Linked DNA regions of Homo sapiens: region 1 is linked to region 2. Evidence: fine-mapped expression QTL. Tissue or cell type: lymphoblastoid cells. Region 2 holds a variant in brackets; the other region holds the start of a gene. All regions are shown on one strand. Distances are from middle to middle.

Evidence for each region. PIP is the estimated chance that this variant, and not a neighbour inherited with it, causes the effect.
Region 1: it holds the start of KALRN, and the variant in region 2 is fine-mapped to the expression of KALRN in lymphoblastoid cells (TwinsUK, PIP 0.91).

Annotation. Positions count from the first base shown.
Region 1 is chr3:124,028,726-124,036,831 of GRCh38, forward strand. KALRN (kalirin RhoGEF kinase) reads left to right here and starts at 4,644. Exons shown (of 60, transcript NM_001388419.1): 1 at 4,644-5,088. The coding sequence starts at 5,016. RefSeq lists a silencer at 4,160-4,619.
Region 2 is chr3:124,672,678-124,680,783 of GRCh38, forward strand. KALRN (kalirin RhoGEF kinase) reads left to right here. Exons shown (of 60, transcript NM_001388419.1): 49 at 1,687-1,937; 50 at 5,513-5,636; 51 at 6,781-6,840. Among named protein-coding and RNA genes, the nearest start is that of UMPS, 54 kb to the right of the region's middle. The variant T/G (reference allele first, on the strand shown) is at 4,814.

The DNA of each region.
Region 1 (8,106 bases), 640 kb before region 2:
TGATCTGACTTTCATGCCACCATGTCCGGCTACTTTTTGTATTTTTTGTAGAGATGGGTTATGCCATGTCGCCCAGGCTGGTTTCAGTCTCCTGGGATCAAGGGATTTGCCCACCTTGGTCTCCCAAAGTGCTAGGATTACGGGCGTAAGCCACCATACTCGGACTTGTATTGCTTTTTAAATATGGTATATTGGTTTCCTAGGGTTGCTGTAACGAAGTAGTGCAAACTGGGTAGCTTAAAATAATAGACATTTATTCTGTCACAGTTCTGAAGAGAAGAAGTCTGAAATCAAGTGTTAGAATGGCCATGCTCCCTCTGAGACTCTGGGGAGAATCTTTCTTTACCTCTTTCTAGCTTCTGGTGGTGGCTGTCAATTCTTGGTATTCTTTGCTGCTGCGTCACTCCAATCTCTGCCTCTGCCATTACATGGCATTTTTCCCTATGTGTCTCTGTCTTCTCTGTCTTCATATGGAATTTTTTTTTCTTCTTATCGGGACACCAGTCATATTGGATTAGGGTCCATCCTAGTGACCACATTCCAAATTTGATTATATCTGCAAACACCTTATTTCCAAATAAGGCCACTTTCACAGCTACCAGGGGTTAGGACTTTAACATACCTTTTTTGAGAATACAATTCAACCCATATCATGTGGTAAGTTACATTGAATAGTTTTCCAAATGTGAAACCAACCTTGTATATGTGGGATAAACCCACTTGGTTATGATGTATTATCCTTTTTATATATTGTAGATTTTATTTGCTAAAATTTTATTAAAAATTTTATTCCTAATAAATATTCCTAAGGAAGTAGTCTACATTTTTTTTCTTATATGGCCTTTGTTTAGTTTTGGCATCAGAGTAATGCTGGCCTCATAGAAGTAGTTGGGAAATATTTCCTCCTTTTCACTTTTCTGGAAGAGTTTTTGTGGAATTGATATTATTTCTTCCTTAAATGTTTCATAAATTTACCAAAAAACCCATGTGAATCTTGAGTTGTTTTGTGTGTGGGTGTGTGTGGGGAAAGCTTTTAAGCTACAAATTTAATTTCTATAGTAGATAAATAGCTATTTAAGTTAGCAATTTCTCCTTGAGTGAACTTTAGTAGTTTGTGTCCATCTTATGAAAGTTGTCAAATTTGTTGGCATAAAGTTGTTCATAATATTCCCTTATTATTATTTTTACATTTATAGAATTTGTAGTGATGTTACCTCTGTCATTCCTGCTAGCAGTAATTTGAGATTTTTCTCTTATTTTCTGATCAGTCTGGGTGGAGGTTTTTTTATTTTATTGATCTTAAAGAACCCACTTTAGTTTCATTGATTTTTTTCTTTTGTTTTCCTGCTATTTTATTGCCTTCTGCTCTGATCTTTTTTATTTCTGTTCTTCCACTTTGATTTCGTTTGCTCTTACAGTAGAATAGGAGCTTATTGATGGGAGATCTTTATTTTCAAAATAGGTATTTAGCACTATAAATGTCTTTCTGCTTCAGCTGCATCCCACAGATTTAGACTGCCTTAGCTGCATCCCACAGATTTTTATGTAATGTGTTTTCATTTTTATTCACTTTGAGATTCTTTCTAATATCCCCCTTTTAATTCTTTTTTTGGTGGGGGTGGCAGGGGACAAAGTCTCACTGTGTCACCCAGGCTAAAGTGCAGTGGCACAATCTTGGCTCACTGCAACCTCTGCTTCCTGGGTTCAAGTGATTCTCATGCCTCAGCCACCAGAGTAGCTGGGATTGCAGGCAAACGCTACCATGTCCGGCTAATTTTTGTATTTTTAGTAGAGATGGGTTTTGCCCTGTTGGTCAGTCTGGTCTTGAACTCCTGGCCTCAGGTGATCCCCTGGCCTCAGCCTCACAAAGTGTTAGAATTATAGGCATGAGCCATGGTGCCCAGCCCATCCTTTGAATTCTTAGTAGCTCATGTGTTATTTAGAAGTGTGTTATTTACTTTCCAAATATTTGGGAGGTTTTTCTAGATTCTTTTTGTTATTGATTTCTAGTTTAATTCTATTGTGGTCAGAGAACATACTCTGATTTTTTTTTAAAAACCAACTTAGGTATAATTTATGTACCTCTTTGCATGATTTTAATCCTTTTAAATTTATTGAGATTTGTTTTATGGCTTAGTGTATGGTTTATCTTGACAAATGCTACCTGTGCATTTGAAAAAATGTGTATCTGCTGTTATGGAGTGGAATATTCTATAAATGTCAGTTAGGTTAGGTTGGTTGATAACATTGTTCAAGTCTTCCATATCTTTACTGATGATCTGTCTCCTTATTCTATTAATTACTGCATTTTACAGATATTAAATTATCTGACTATAATTATAAATTTTTATATTTCTCCTTGCAATCCTATCAGTTTTGCTTCATGTACTTTGAAGCTATCTTATTAGGTGCAAACACTCTTAGGATTGTTACGTCTGCTTGATGAATTGAAATGTTCCTCTTTATCCCTGGTAATATTCTTTGCTTTGAAGTCTTCTTTGATATTAATATAGCCATGAACACTTAACATTTTAATAGAAGTTGCCAAATTTCCTCTCAAAAAAAGTTTGTGTCATTACATAAGGTGTTCCCCCTTTCTTGTCTATATCTTGAGATTTTGATATGACCCTTCCTCTAAACATGTAATGTTTCTTCTGAATTGTGATGAGCTAATGCCTTGCCAGGCCACTGGTTCTTTAGCTGCACAATGGTGGCAATTAATTAATAGCAGCTCTGCCATCACATATGTGTGTGCGGGGGTAGGGGAGCAGACCAGGGGTTAGGCAAAGGATTAAGGGGAAGGAAGATTTTGAAAAGACAAATGAGAAGTATTTTCATTGTCAGAAAAGGCATAGGCAAAGGGGCATCTTAAGCCAGTTCAAGATACTAGGGCCAGATGAATTAGATCTCAGGGCAGTGAACTTGTGATGTCAGAGTCACTACAGAGGTCTGATAGATGTACTCAAGGTTGGAGACAGGTCTGATAGGTGTATCCAAGGTTGGAAACAGGTACTTTTTTTTAATGGGTGAAAAAAAATTAGACTGTTTGTGTCAGTGAAGAACGTGATGCGTACAGGGAGCCAGAAAGTGTTCACTAAAAACTAATTTAATTCATTTTATTTGCTACAAGTTTACACAGTTGGTGGATCTGCATAGGCCCCAGTTGCCTTGGCCCCCAGAGAGAGGTGGAACCAAACAGGTTACTAGAGACAAACAGATCCAGGAGATTCTGTCTGATGGGTTGCAGTCATTAACTTCAGACCAGTACCTGGTTTTCCTATTAGGCGTGTTTTAACACATTAGGTCAGGCCACCACTTCTCCATCTGTCTGGATGAGGCAACAGCGAACAGCGCTCAGCAGACCTTATTAAGTACTCAGGTCTTAAAGACCCTCTGTTTGGTGGGCTCTGTAGTCACTAGAACCATAAACACACTACTGGCTAATTATTGTTTAATTATTGCTTAAAAACTGATGGGCACAATACAATCACCGCATTAATTACCCCATACAGCATCTGTTTTCTTTTTTGCAGCCATCCCCATTCCTCCCCAGCCCCTCTCCCCACTTTAATTGAAATTCAGCTTGCTGTAACACCTCCTTCCTCCTGGCCAACTGGATCTCTCCATTCACATGAGGGAGAACAAAACCGAGAAGGCCCCAGGGATTAGAGAGTTTTGACAGCTGTCCAAGAGGAGCGCGGAGATACGGGCCAAGTACGGAGGCAGGACAGAGACAAACGAGGGACAAGAGAGTGACGGAGGGAGGGAGAGATAGGCAGGGAGACATCACAGGAGCATTAAACTGGACAAAGAGTCACAGAGACAGGCGGAGATGTTTAAAGGGGCGCTGAAAAGGGGAAAAGGACGAGAAAAGATAAAAAGGAGAGAAACTGTGGCGAGCTGGTGAGGAAAATGTGAGAGGCTCAGGAGGGCAGGGAGACAGAAGAGAGCTCGTCAGGAAGGAGGGGAAGAAAGGCCGGCCTCTAGGGACAGGTCAGTCCAGCTTGGAGACCGATCTGAAGATCCAGAGAAGGCGGGCGGGCAGCCTGGTGGTCCCCTCACACACCTGGGAGTGGAGTGGACGGAGGAGGTGGCCGCGGGGCCGGGAGGAGCACCGGCGGCGCGAGCGGAGAAGCTGAGCGCGCAGCGCCCGGGCCGCAGAGCCCCCTGGACAAGCCTGGCGTGTGCCCTGCAGCCCCGGGCTCGCCCGGCGGCCCCGCCCCCTCCCTGGCCCGGGCTTTTCCTGCGGAGCTCAGGAAGCCGGCCTAGCACAGCCTCGAACAATAGCTCGGGACTCGGGCTCCGCTCCCCGGGAGGCCGGCGCGGGGCCGCTGGGACTGGGGGCGTAGGCGCCGCCGGGGGCCCGCAGCGAGCCCTCGGCCCCGGCCGGAGCTTCAATTCAGCTCGGCGCTCCCGGGGTCATTGTTGGCCGGGACTGAGGGAGCGGGAGCCGGGGGAGGAGCTGGGGAGGCGGCTGCTGCGGCGGCGGCGGCGGCGGGAGCCAGAGGGGGAGCTAGAGAGCGAGCGAGCGAAGGAGGGAGGTAGCGAGTGAGCGAGTGAGCGAGGGAGGGAGGAGGTAGGGAGACAGGGAGGGTGGGAGGGAGGAGGAAAAATAAAGAGGAGAGAGCGGAGCAGGGCTGAACAATAGAGACAGGCAGACGGGCGAGCAGGAGAGCCAGCTGCCGCTGCTGGGGGACAGCGGGCGCCCAGGCAGCCCGCACCCCGGCCCCGGGCCCCGGCCCCAGCCAGACAGCAGGCGGCCAGCGCCCTGGGGAAGGGGTACCATGGGGGAGCTGGCGGCAGGCACCCCCAGCCCGCCGCGCGCCTCCGCCTGAGGGAGGCTCAGCGTCCTCTGCCCCAGCCCCGCCGCCCAACGCCCGCCCTCGAAGCTCCGCGGCCGCCAGCTCTGCGGCCGCAGCAGCTGCGCCCCGCGCCCTCCGCCCACCGGGCGCCGAGCAGCCCTCGGCCCCAGGCTTCTTCGGCTCCCGGCTGCCCGCGGACGCCCTCCCACAGTCATGAACCCCCCTGAGGGAGCAGCGGAGGAAGGAGGAGCAGCAGACTCGGACGTGGACGCCTTTTTCCGGACAGGTAAGCCGGGCAGGGCGCGGGGGGCCAGGGCTGAAGGCTACTGCCTCGGACGCGGCGTCTCGGACAAGTTTGGGGAAGGAGGGCTGTTGCTGCCGCGTGCGTGTTGGGGGGCAGTGCCCCCTCGGCGTCGGGGCTGGAGTTGCCGAGATTCTGGTTGTTATGGCAGTGCTGGCTGCGTCTGGGGAGGGCGTGGGGGCTGGGAACTCCGCGCCCCTCCGCCTTCACCCCAGTTGCGGGAGTCTGTGTTGGGGAGGTGGGAGGCGGTCCCCTCGGACCGCCTTCTCCCAGAGCGCGGGGATGGGCGGTGTTGGCTCACTTTGCAGCGCGCCGCTCCGGCTACCGGCGTCCCGGCCCCTCCCTTGGCTCCCCCTCCCCTGTGCCTGTCAGCGGGGCTCCCGGCGGCCGCCCTGGGTCGGCACCCCTCCTCGCCGTCGGGGGCCCGGGGCCCTGATGTGCACAGAGGGGCGGCGGGGACCCGGAGCCGCGCCGGCTGCAGACTGACAGGAGTGGGGCGGAAGACATCGGTCTCGCCTGGTGCGTGTGGGGAGCTGGTCCCTCTGACTTGAGAGGCAGACCCAGCTGGGAGGGCGGTGGGCGCCTCGGACCTCCCCCTTGTCCTCCTCTTCAGTTCTGGGAACGGAGGAGCTATTCATAAGAATTACTCATTCCTGGAAGTGTGAGTTAGCGTCCCTCTCATACACACCCACTAAGTCTCTGCTTGCTGTGAGGTGTAGAGCCCTGAGATGTCTTTCTAGCTCTTTGCGCCCCTGCCATCGTCCAAGTCCCGGGTCCATTGCTCCTCCTGCTCCCTGGCTACACAGTCCCTCCCTAGAACCGGCACTGACCACCCTTATCTTCCACCACCTGTGGCCCTGTTTCTCTGATGGCCAGGGATTCCCCGTCTCCCTGTACCTGTGGCTTCCACCAGCTTCTGTGTGTAGCTCCCCATCTCCCCACATGTCTGAAACAGTTTTGTCTGGAATCTTTGTCCCAAGGAGTCCAGTAAGTTACCGGGGCCCCATGCATCTGCTCTCCCTTCTGGAAAGTTGGATTAGAGGACATGAACTGGTGGGGGTCAGGGGTCAGGTTAGCTCTGGAGGGTCTCTGCACATCCATCTGTTTCCTAACCCTGTTACCTTGCCCTGGAGGTCATCTCTAGGGAAGGGGGTGGGGTGCTTTGCGGGGGAGACTTGTGGCTTTGGAAGTCAAGACTTGATTGGCTCATATGTTCATTCTCTAGTTGATGTGCAGAGGAAAAAACTGGAGGACAGGAGCTGGTGCCAGGGTCTGGGGAAATCAGAGGGAGCCCTGTCATTCTATTCTGCTTCCCAGGTCTAAGCCTTCTTTCCTTTTCTTTCTTCCTCCTTCCTTCCCTCCTTCCTCTTCCGAGACATGGATTCTATTTTCTTTCTTCTCTCTCTCTCTCTCATACACACACAGCCCAGCACCCAAAAGCATGGATTCTAAAGAGGTGGAATCTAGGGAAAAGGTGGTTCTGGGGGCTAAGTGATATTCAGAAATACTCATTATGAGGCAGAGGAGGGGAGATATGGGAATTCATAACTGGGACTAGAAACAAATTGACCAGTCAATCAAAAACCCAGCTGACCCCCCTTGCCTCCCAACTGGGGCAAAAGTCTGCATTTTCTTAGCTCTGAGGGAAAAATCTTGAAGTGTGAGCCTTCCCACCTTCCCTTTCTGGACTCCACTTTTACCTTTTGGTGCCCACTCCTCTTTCCCCTTTCCTATCATCCAAACACTAGGTCCTGTTCATTTTCTGTTCCAGGCACCCGTAGCAGAGCTCAGTTCCTGGAGGCTTGCTTATTTCTGATAATAAATTCACACAGTGTTAATGGCCAATAATAGTCCAATGTGTTACTTTTCCCAGGGCCTTTCAAAACACAAGGTGTGGCACACATTATCTAACCCTGGCTCAAATCACAGAATAAATAGCAGACTGGGGTCAGTCTCCTGTGGGATTCCTATGTTGGGGATATTCTCCCTCCTCCTTGGGCAGCCCAGTGGCTGAGCTAAGTCTGATGTGCACTTAGTATCAGAGAAAGGTTAAGTCATTGGTGCATGAGGCTGGAAATGACTGATGACCTGTAACATGTTGCAAGAGGGGGTAGGTCAAGGACTACATCCACCCTGTGTGGCCCTCTATGCTTGGCTCACTGACTGTCACCACACTTCTGGTCTCTAGCCTAGGCTCTTGCTGGGGATTCTTCTTCTTCTTTTTATTTTTATTTTTTGTTGTTAATTTTTATTTTAGGTTCAGGGGTACATGTATGGGTTATATAGATAAACTGTGTGTCACAGGGGTTTCGTATACAGATTATTTCATCACCTTGGTAATAAGCATAGTACCTGATAGGTATTTTTTCTGATTTTCTCTGTCCTCCCACCTTCCACCCTCAAGTAGGCTCCGGTGTTTGTTATTCCTCTCTTTGTGTCCATGTGTTTTCATTGTTTAACTCTCACTTATAAGTGAGAACATGAAGTATTTGGTTTTTTGTTCCTGCGTTAGTTTGCTTAAGATAACAGCCTCCACCTCCATCCATGTTGCTGCAAAGGGCATGATCTTATTCTTTTTTATGGCTGCATAGTATTCCATGATGTACATGTACCACATTTTCTTTATCTAGTCTGCCATTGATGGGCATTTAGGTTGATTCCATGTCTTTGCTATTGTGAACAGTGCTGCAATGAACATATGCATATGCGTTGGTGGAGATTCTTAAGCTTAGAAAAGCCATGTTTCTAAACCTTCTCCCTTCTGATTTCCCATCTCTGTGGAATATAGCACTATACCTGATAGGCTGGATAGATTATAAATGTATTCTATTGAACAACTGAGAAAGCTTCAAACAAATTTTCAAAGTCCCTAGCACCAGGGTTACCCCTTTCTTTCTGATGGAAAATTTTGTATGCACAAGGACCAAACTGGAAATTGCTTTGTCAAAATTCTGGCATACTGTGCTTCTAATTAGGCATGTTTCAAATTATTCTGTCATTTTG
Region 2 (8,106 bases):
AGTCTACACAGCTATTTTGCCCCTACAAGGTAGGTAGAACAGGAGAGAAATGGGAAAAGTGCTAGATTAGGAATCAGGCAAACCTGGTTTCTATTCCCAGTTCTGCAACTCACTTGCTTTAGAACCTTAGCCGAGTTAGTTAACCTCATTAGGCCTCAGTTTTCTCTAGAACTCAGTGGCTCTATGAATAGGAACACTTACATTTTTTATCTACATGTTCCAGTTTTATAGTTTTATTTCTCCTCAAAATTATTAGTTTATATTGGTTATATTAAAAAATTATTAGTGTCCAAGTTCAATCCTGTATTAGAGTAACCACACTGATTTGTTCCGTCACATCACCTGGAAATGATTTTCCACCTTAAAAAACAATCCTGCCTTTGTGAATAAACTGAAGTCACTTTGGCATTTTGTCAAACATATCGGGCCAGATGCGCTGGCTCACGCCTGTAATCCCAGCACTTTGGGAGGCCAAGGCAGGGTGATGGCTTGGGCTTAAGAGCTCAAGACCAGCCTGGGCAACATAGCAAGAACTCATCTCTAATAAAACTTTAAAAAAAAAAAAAAATTAGCCAGGCACGGTAGCATGCACCTGTTGTCCCAGATACTGAGGCAGGAGAATCACTTGAGCCTGGGAAGTCGAGGCTACAGTGAGCTATGACTCTGCCACTGCACTCTAGCCTAGGTGACATAGCAAGACCGTGTCTCAAAAACAAACAAAAAGTATATACTGAAGAATTTGTATGTATATCCTGTATGTATATACATATAGAATATATATGTATATCCTGTATGTATATACATATAGAATATATATGTATATCCTGTATGTATATACATATAGAATATATATGTATATCCTGTATGTATATGCATATAGAATATATATGTATATCCTGTATGTATATGCATATAGAATATATATGTATATCCTGTATGTATATGCATATAGAATATATATGTATATACTGAAGAATTTCTGGCTCTTACCATGCTCTATGAGGCAGCCAGTCCTCCTAGGAAAGTTACAAGTCTGTCTAGAGGCAGCTGCCCTGAAATAGACTCACATGAAAAGGTCATGGGCAGCATCTCTTATATTAATGAGTAGGGGAGGGTACCTGGTGCCTGCAGGAAGTTGGGTAAGGGTAGGTCATGGTCTTGCCTTTGAATTGGGCAGAGATATCATTCTTAGTCCTGTCTCAAAGAGGGTCAGAATATAAAGTAAAGCCAGCGCACTTTCAAAAAGAGAAAAATTTAATATCAAACAATCCGTGTTCTTTCCATTGAAGGATTGTGACCCCTGACATGACACTTGCCCTGACCTCATTCTGCCCAGGTGCTTACATACCCCTATGCCAGTGCCAGGTTCTTCCTTTCACTTGTAAGAGAACGCTGGCAGGAAGGTTGTATGCTGGGAAGGGGCTTCCAGGTCAAAGGCGTGTTTATACCTTTATGTGGGGTGGAGCCATTCACCCTGGATGATAATATTGTTGAAACATTGCTATTAAAAAATATACTTTCAGAGCATGTTTATTAATATCATGTCATTACTCAAGAGAGAATGCTGCCTGCTGCCTACCCTGCTAGTGGGAGATTTGGCCTTGAACCACTGGGTAGGGTGCAGAGCAAGCCCATGTGAACTAGCGTCCTTGTGTTTGTGCCCCTCTCACCCTTATCTCCCAGCAGAACGACCTGGGAGGCTGCAATGGGACCTCGTCCATGGCCGTGATCAAAGATTACTATGCACTGAAGGAGAATGAAATCTGTGTGAGCCAAGGTGAGGTGGTCCAGGTCCTCGCCGTCAACCAGCAGAACATGTGTCTGGTGTACCAGCCTGCCAGCGACCATTCCCCCGCCGCCGAGGGCTGGGTCCCAGGCAGCATCCTGGCGCCCCTCACCAAAGCCACAGCAGCAGAAAGTAGTGACGGGAGCATCAAGTAAGTGCCTCGTTGGCTTCCCCGGGAGAGGAGTATGAGGATTAAAAATATTCAGAAACAAACAAAAGAACACAAAAATGCAAACACATGGTAGGGAATTACTACTGCTTATTCTCAACAGTACCACAGAACCAGTGTTTGAGTGCTGACACCATATGCAACATGGGGCATCCGGGCTGGAGTGATCCAGTTTTTTAGTTGGTGGTGGCGATGATTTTTCTTTCCTTTTGGTTTATAATTTTCTGTTCATTTTTCCCCCTTTCTCCCCCACATTCATTAAGAACCCTACTGAAACCCTAGGTGACAAAAGGTGTGCCTTCTGTTGCCACATTTGACCCACCACAGGACTCACTGGACTGGACTTCTATTTATATTGTATTAAGTAACTGATATATATATATATATATATTTTTGATTGACACCAAAAAATTACCTTGGCACAAATGCCAGACCTGTGAAGGTCAGAGGCCCGCTGCTTTTCCCAGGAGGGAGGGAACTTTTTGGTTGTCTGTGGCAATTCCTCTGTACAGATTGTAACTTTTTAAAAATTTCCCTTCACCCCGTCACTTGAATATATGTTCATAGTAATTTGTAAGATACTTCTTTTCCTTATTTTGGTTGCAAGACCCTTCCGAACACATTCCTGTATAAAGTATTTTGCACTATTTAAAGAAACCCATATGGATGAAGTCAGGATGTGCAATATGATGGCGTCACAGTGCTCATCGTTGTACCTGTAATGTAACTAATCAGTTTAAATGTACTATTTTAAATATGTAAAATAAATTTTCACCATGAGCATGTTTTAATGAAGTTAAAGACTAGTTGACCCTTTTTCCCCTGTTTCACTATTCTTGGACTTTCAAATGTGCAAACAATTCTTCTTCTTTTCCTCCTCTTCTTCTTTTTTTTTTTTTTTTTTTCCCTTTTCTGTATTTTAGGATTTGGGTGAATGCATTGGCATTTTTTTTTCCTACATAAAAAGTATTTTTGTTGCTGAAGTTCTGACCCGGGCCTTCCCTCCTAAATAGCCCCTGTTGATTTTCTCTAACCTCTGAGATGAGGGAAGGTACAGATTTGATGCTGTCCAACTGGTTCCCTGCAACTGGGCAGCCCTGAGGTGCTGATGTCAATTAATGACCAGAGTAGAAGGCAGTGTTTGACTGGCATTCTCCGCTGCTTTCCCCTGCTGCATAGTAATCCATGGAAGACGTGGTGCAGGGGGCTTCCATGAGCTATCTGAGCAGTGGCACCAGCATAACTGCACTGCTTTGGCCCTCTAGGTCAGGGGATAGCAGCTACTGACATCACCCTGGCCTCACTAGGTAACCACAGGCCCAGCCAAAAATCCACAGTGGCCCCTAAGGCACAATAGCCCCCATGCATTTTATCCTAAGTATACTTGTTTTGGGTGCCTTTTAGGTAAGCCTTGGGATAAAGGCCCTCAAAGCATTGAAGTTTTTACTAATCAGGGGACTTGCAGAGCTAACTCTTAATGATTTATCCTCTAAATATCCAGGCACTAAACACTTCTTCCTCCCTACCTTTGGTTCTGTTGGCCACTTATCCATACCTTCCATGGGAGGGAAGGTAAAAGGATGTCAGACCGAGCAAAAGAGAGCAGATTGAAATACAAATGGGTCATTTTGATTTCTTGTCAGCCGCTCTTGCAAAAGGGTTGGGGGTGTGTGTGGAGGGGAGCAGTGGACTGAAAAAGGTTGTCAGCATTTACCAGTGGAGGACACTCAGCACACCCTCCCCAAGGCCTGCCATAACCACAGGGGTCAGAGTTGGTTGTGATGCCTACAGGATAAACGTCACTGAAACCCTGTGTCCACATCAGTCCCTGGGCTTGCAACCAAGAGATGGAAGCTCCCCAAACCATGATGACGAGTTCTTCTGGGAAGAATATGAAACCAAGCCTGCCCTGCCATTTATACTACTCTCAGTCTTCCTTCTGAACATGAAATGTTATTGCTCATATTTCTAGTTTTTCACCAAGCATATTAAATAACCCAGAGAATTTAATAAATGTAGAAACACACCCCCACAAGGACACACACATACACAACGTGCTGCCTGCCCTGGGAGTCCTTTCAGCAGGGATCTCCCTGACTCAAGTTGTTCTCAGAAGGAGCCAGGGACATGGGTTTGGGAGTAAAGTTATCAAAGTCTGAAGTTAACAGGCTGATGCCATCTAAGATTAGCTTCTATGGCTGGTTCTCACTTATACAACGGTTGGAGCAAGGTGCTGGTATGCAGGGGACAGTAGAGAGCCTGACTAGTTAGGAGATACAAGAGTTTTTGAAGGAGCCCACTTTCCCACAAGATTCAAGAATATTACTGTGATTGCTCTTTCCTGCTCAGAAGGTTGAACCTGTGTGTTAGCGGATAAATATTTTTGGAACACCTTCCTCAAAGTACCCTTAAAATCCTGATGTATGTGGAGTGTTCTGGAGGGATGCTCTGTATTTTGCAGCAGCTTCCTTTTCCTAAATCTCCTCTGCCTCTCTCCCATAATGGACGCTCATCTCATGGAGCCCTGTCTGCATAGGCCCACCTTTGACAAGGAGATACTGAGGGGAAGCCACGTCTTACTTATTCCAGACAACAATTAGAACTTCATTCAAGCTCTGTGACCTCACCTGAAACTGATGATGCCTGCTCAGGGTCACTGATGCTGTTTGTGACTTGGCTTTTGGTATCTCTGTCTTTGAGATCTGATATTTATGGAATGTAAGGGCTCTGCTCTGAGCTTGTCTTCATAGGTCTGTGAAGAAGTTGCTCCCAAGACCCTTTGTGGGAAGAAAGAAGTTAGGATGAAAGGCCTATTGAAAAGCCATTGCTGCTCTCACCTCCCTGGGAGCACACATTAG[T/G]TCTTGTCCCAATAGGGAAGCTCTAGGACCTCTACAGGCTGACAAAGCCATATATTCACAAACACTGAGTGATATGGAGAATATAGACCGAGAAACTCTTTGCCCTAAAATATCCAGGTAAATGAGTGGTGCTCAACTGTTTATTAAGCAAATGTCTGCCACAGAAAATCCTGTCTGATCAACATTGTTTGGGAGTGGCCCTGCCCAAATACAAATCATGAGGTAGAACTCTCAATGTCATCCTTTTAGGTCTTTCTGTCTGGTCCTGGGAAAGTGTCAGTAGCATATGCATTCTAGAATATACTTCCCTTGACTTTCCTATTCTACTCTTCGCCCCCTTTCCTCACCCATCCACCGTGCCCTTCTCAAGAGGAATTCCTCAGTCCTGTGAGGCATCATGGGTATGGTATACAAACTCCCTTATTAGAGTTTAGTAACCTAGCATTCATATTTTCTTTAAATGCCGTAGTCAACCTTGCACATCTACCAGGGGAGGTCAGAGTTCATCCTTGCTCACTTCCAGTTGGAGGCGAGGTCAGCCGCCAGCCACCCTTGGAGCTGGTGTGCAGGTTTGGGGCCTCTGAAGCCCGGGCTTGATGGAGCACCTCACCTGCTGACTCACCCAAGGGTGGTGAGCCCGCCCTCCACATCGCTGTCCCTGACCTGCCATTTTGATTGGTGCATTTTTTGGTACAACAGGAAGTCATGTTCATGGCATACTCTACGCATGAGAAAGCGGGCGGAAGTGGAGAACACGGGTAAAAATGAAGCCACAGGGCCTCGTAAACCCAAGGATATTCTGGGCAACAAAGTCTCTGTTAAAGTGAGTAAGGTATTCCGGAGCTGCGTCCCCACCTGTCATCCACTCCCACCCTGCAGCATTCTCACAAGCCAATTTGGGTGGATGGGTTATTTTTTTTTTTTCCCAGTATGGGTACCAGAGGGGAAGTAGTTTAGCAGGATTTTGCATGCAAGATCAATTTATTTTTTATCTTTTATTTCTCCTGGCAACTTCAATTCAAGTAAGTACCTTTTTTTTCTTTTATACCTTTCTCTTTATACTGTGCAGATGTTTTACAGCAAAATTATCTGCAGCATTCTCTTAAAAATGTGAGATGCTTGATTCATATTAAATTTATCAAAGCTGCCATTTGGTACCCTAGGTTTGAGAATACACACAGGGTAAAGCAATTAGGGATGCCTTCCAAACCCCCAACCCTGTGAAGGCTGAGGTTTGGAATTTAAGGGCCACTGTGTCCTTAGTAAAGTTTCATTTCTTTTCCCCAGAGTTCAGACAACATCAACTTCAGGCCATTTTACTTGCATGGACACAGTAGGGGGGCACATTGGTGAAGCCCAAATTATTTCTTTAAATAATCCATCTACTACTTTGAACTCATGAATTCTAAGCTTGGCAGACTCTTATTTACCCCCATCTTGAAACAATGTCATCTGCTTTCTTTAAATTGGAACCTCTGGAAAGATCTGCCAATGGACCAATGGACAATGGAAACTAGACACTGATTATTATAGCACTAATTATGCTATAATGTGTGATCATCTACCTGGAACTTTGTTTCCCTTCCTTAGCAAAGTAAGAACAACTAAAACCCAGTCTAAGAGATTTCTTGGGGAAAAGAAATTGTATACTCTCCTTCACTCTCATCTGGGAAGTCCAGCCTCACAGAAGACAACAGTTTAAATTCGACAACACTCATGCTTCATTTTGCTTCCATTGCTGTTTCCCATGAGATAAGCAGTTGTACACAACCCCCGCCTCCTCTCCCTGAAAAGAGCATGCTGCTGCCCCTGGTGATTCTCACCCCCACTTTAAAAACACCTGGTTTTTTCTCTGCCCAAGATCCCATCGCCCATGCTTCTCTGAAGTTCTCCTCTCTCTCTAGCAAAAGCTACTTGTGTTCTAACTGTGTTCTCTTTCTTCCCCCTTCCTCATGCTGCCAATCAAGGAGACGAACAGTTCCGAGGAATCAGAGTGTGATGATCTTGACCCTAATACTAGCATGGAGGTAGAAGCAGCTATTGTTGTCCTATTTCCTACAATGATTGCCTTTTTTGATGTGTTCTGTAACAGTGACCTTGCTAAAATGACCAGCCATTCAAAGATAAATTGTGATGTTGGGGCATCTCTGGGTATCCCATCCCAGCTATAAAAGAAACAAACAAAAACATAATTCAGTTCAGTGTTGGTAGAAAACTCTACCTAGATTTTTTTAAAAAACAAAAACTTGTTATCTTGAATGCTTGCTAAATATTTTCTCCTTTGGCAGGTTTGACTTTATGTAGAAAATATCCAATTTCATTATTTGAAACTTAGAACACATTTTTTCATGGAAAACAGCACTGTAAAGAGTGGATGAGTCCCAGCTAAATGACAAGGACTCATTTCGTGTTTAGTTTCTCCCGCTTTTGTTTTCCCCTCCTCCGCTTCTTTTTCTTTAGCCCTTTATCCTCTTCATCTTGCTCTTCTACTGGGTTTTATTCCCTGCTCAGTGTTCCAGAAAAATAACGGGTGAAGTATGGCACCTGGTTGCTATGTAGAGCTGATAGCAAATAAGGTGTAATTGTAGCAACTCCAGAGCACACTTCAGCCCAGTGCTGGGCCCGTGAGCAGTGGCTGTGCCCACCGTGTGAAGGAAAAGGAGCCCTGGGGAGGGCCTGTCTCCTGGAGCCACGGCAGAGGCCTCTCCAGAGATGGTGAGATGGAAACACTGCCCAGGGGACATTTCTCGCACCCCAGGCTTACAGGGATGTGGGAGTGGAACCAACGCCTGTATCAACAAGAACATCCATTCCACTTCCAACTCCCAGTCTGTTGGGTTATAGAAACGTGGCTCTTACGTGGCTTGCCACTGAGTAACAACCATGATAAATTTACAAACCCTAGACAATGAGGGCAAACATGGAGCTGACTTTCCTTGCCATTTTTTCATTCAGAGAATGTTTTTCTCCAGATCTGTGCATCCATCTCCAGTAATGGGTACAAGTTTAGAGATTTCTTCTAAGTACAAAATAGACAACATTAAAAAGAAATTTATATCATCCCAAACATTTCACTTAATTAGATAGACTTTTATTCTTATTCTAATTTGACCTAATCCCAGAGAAGTCCAGCACCATGTTGTTTCAGCCACCACAAAACCCAAGAGAGATCATGAGGCCTAAGAGCCGGTAAGTCAGCTGCAGAAGGAGCCAACTGAGTTGAATCAGGCCCGAGGCAATCGGCTGACAATGGGAGTTCTGCCAGGATAGAGTAGTCCCCTGTAGATGTGGGT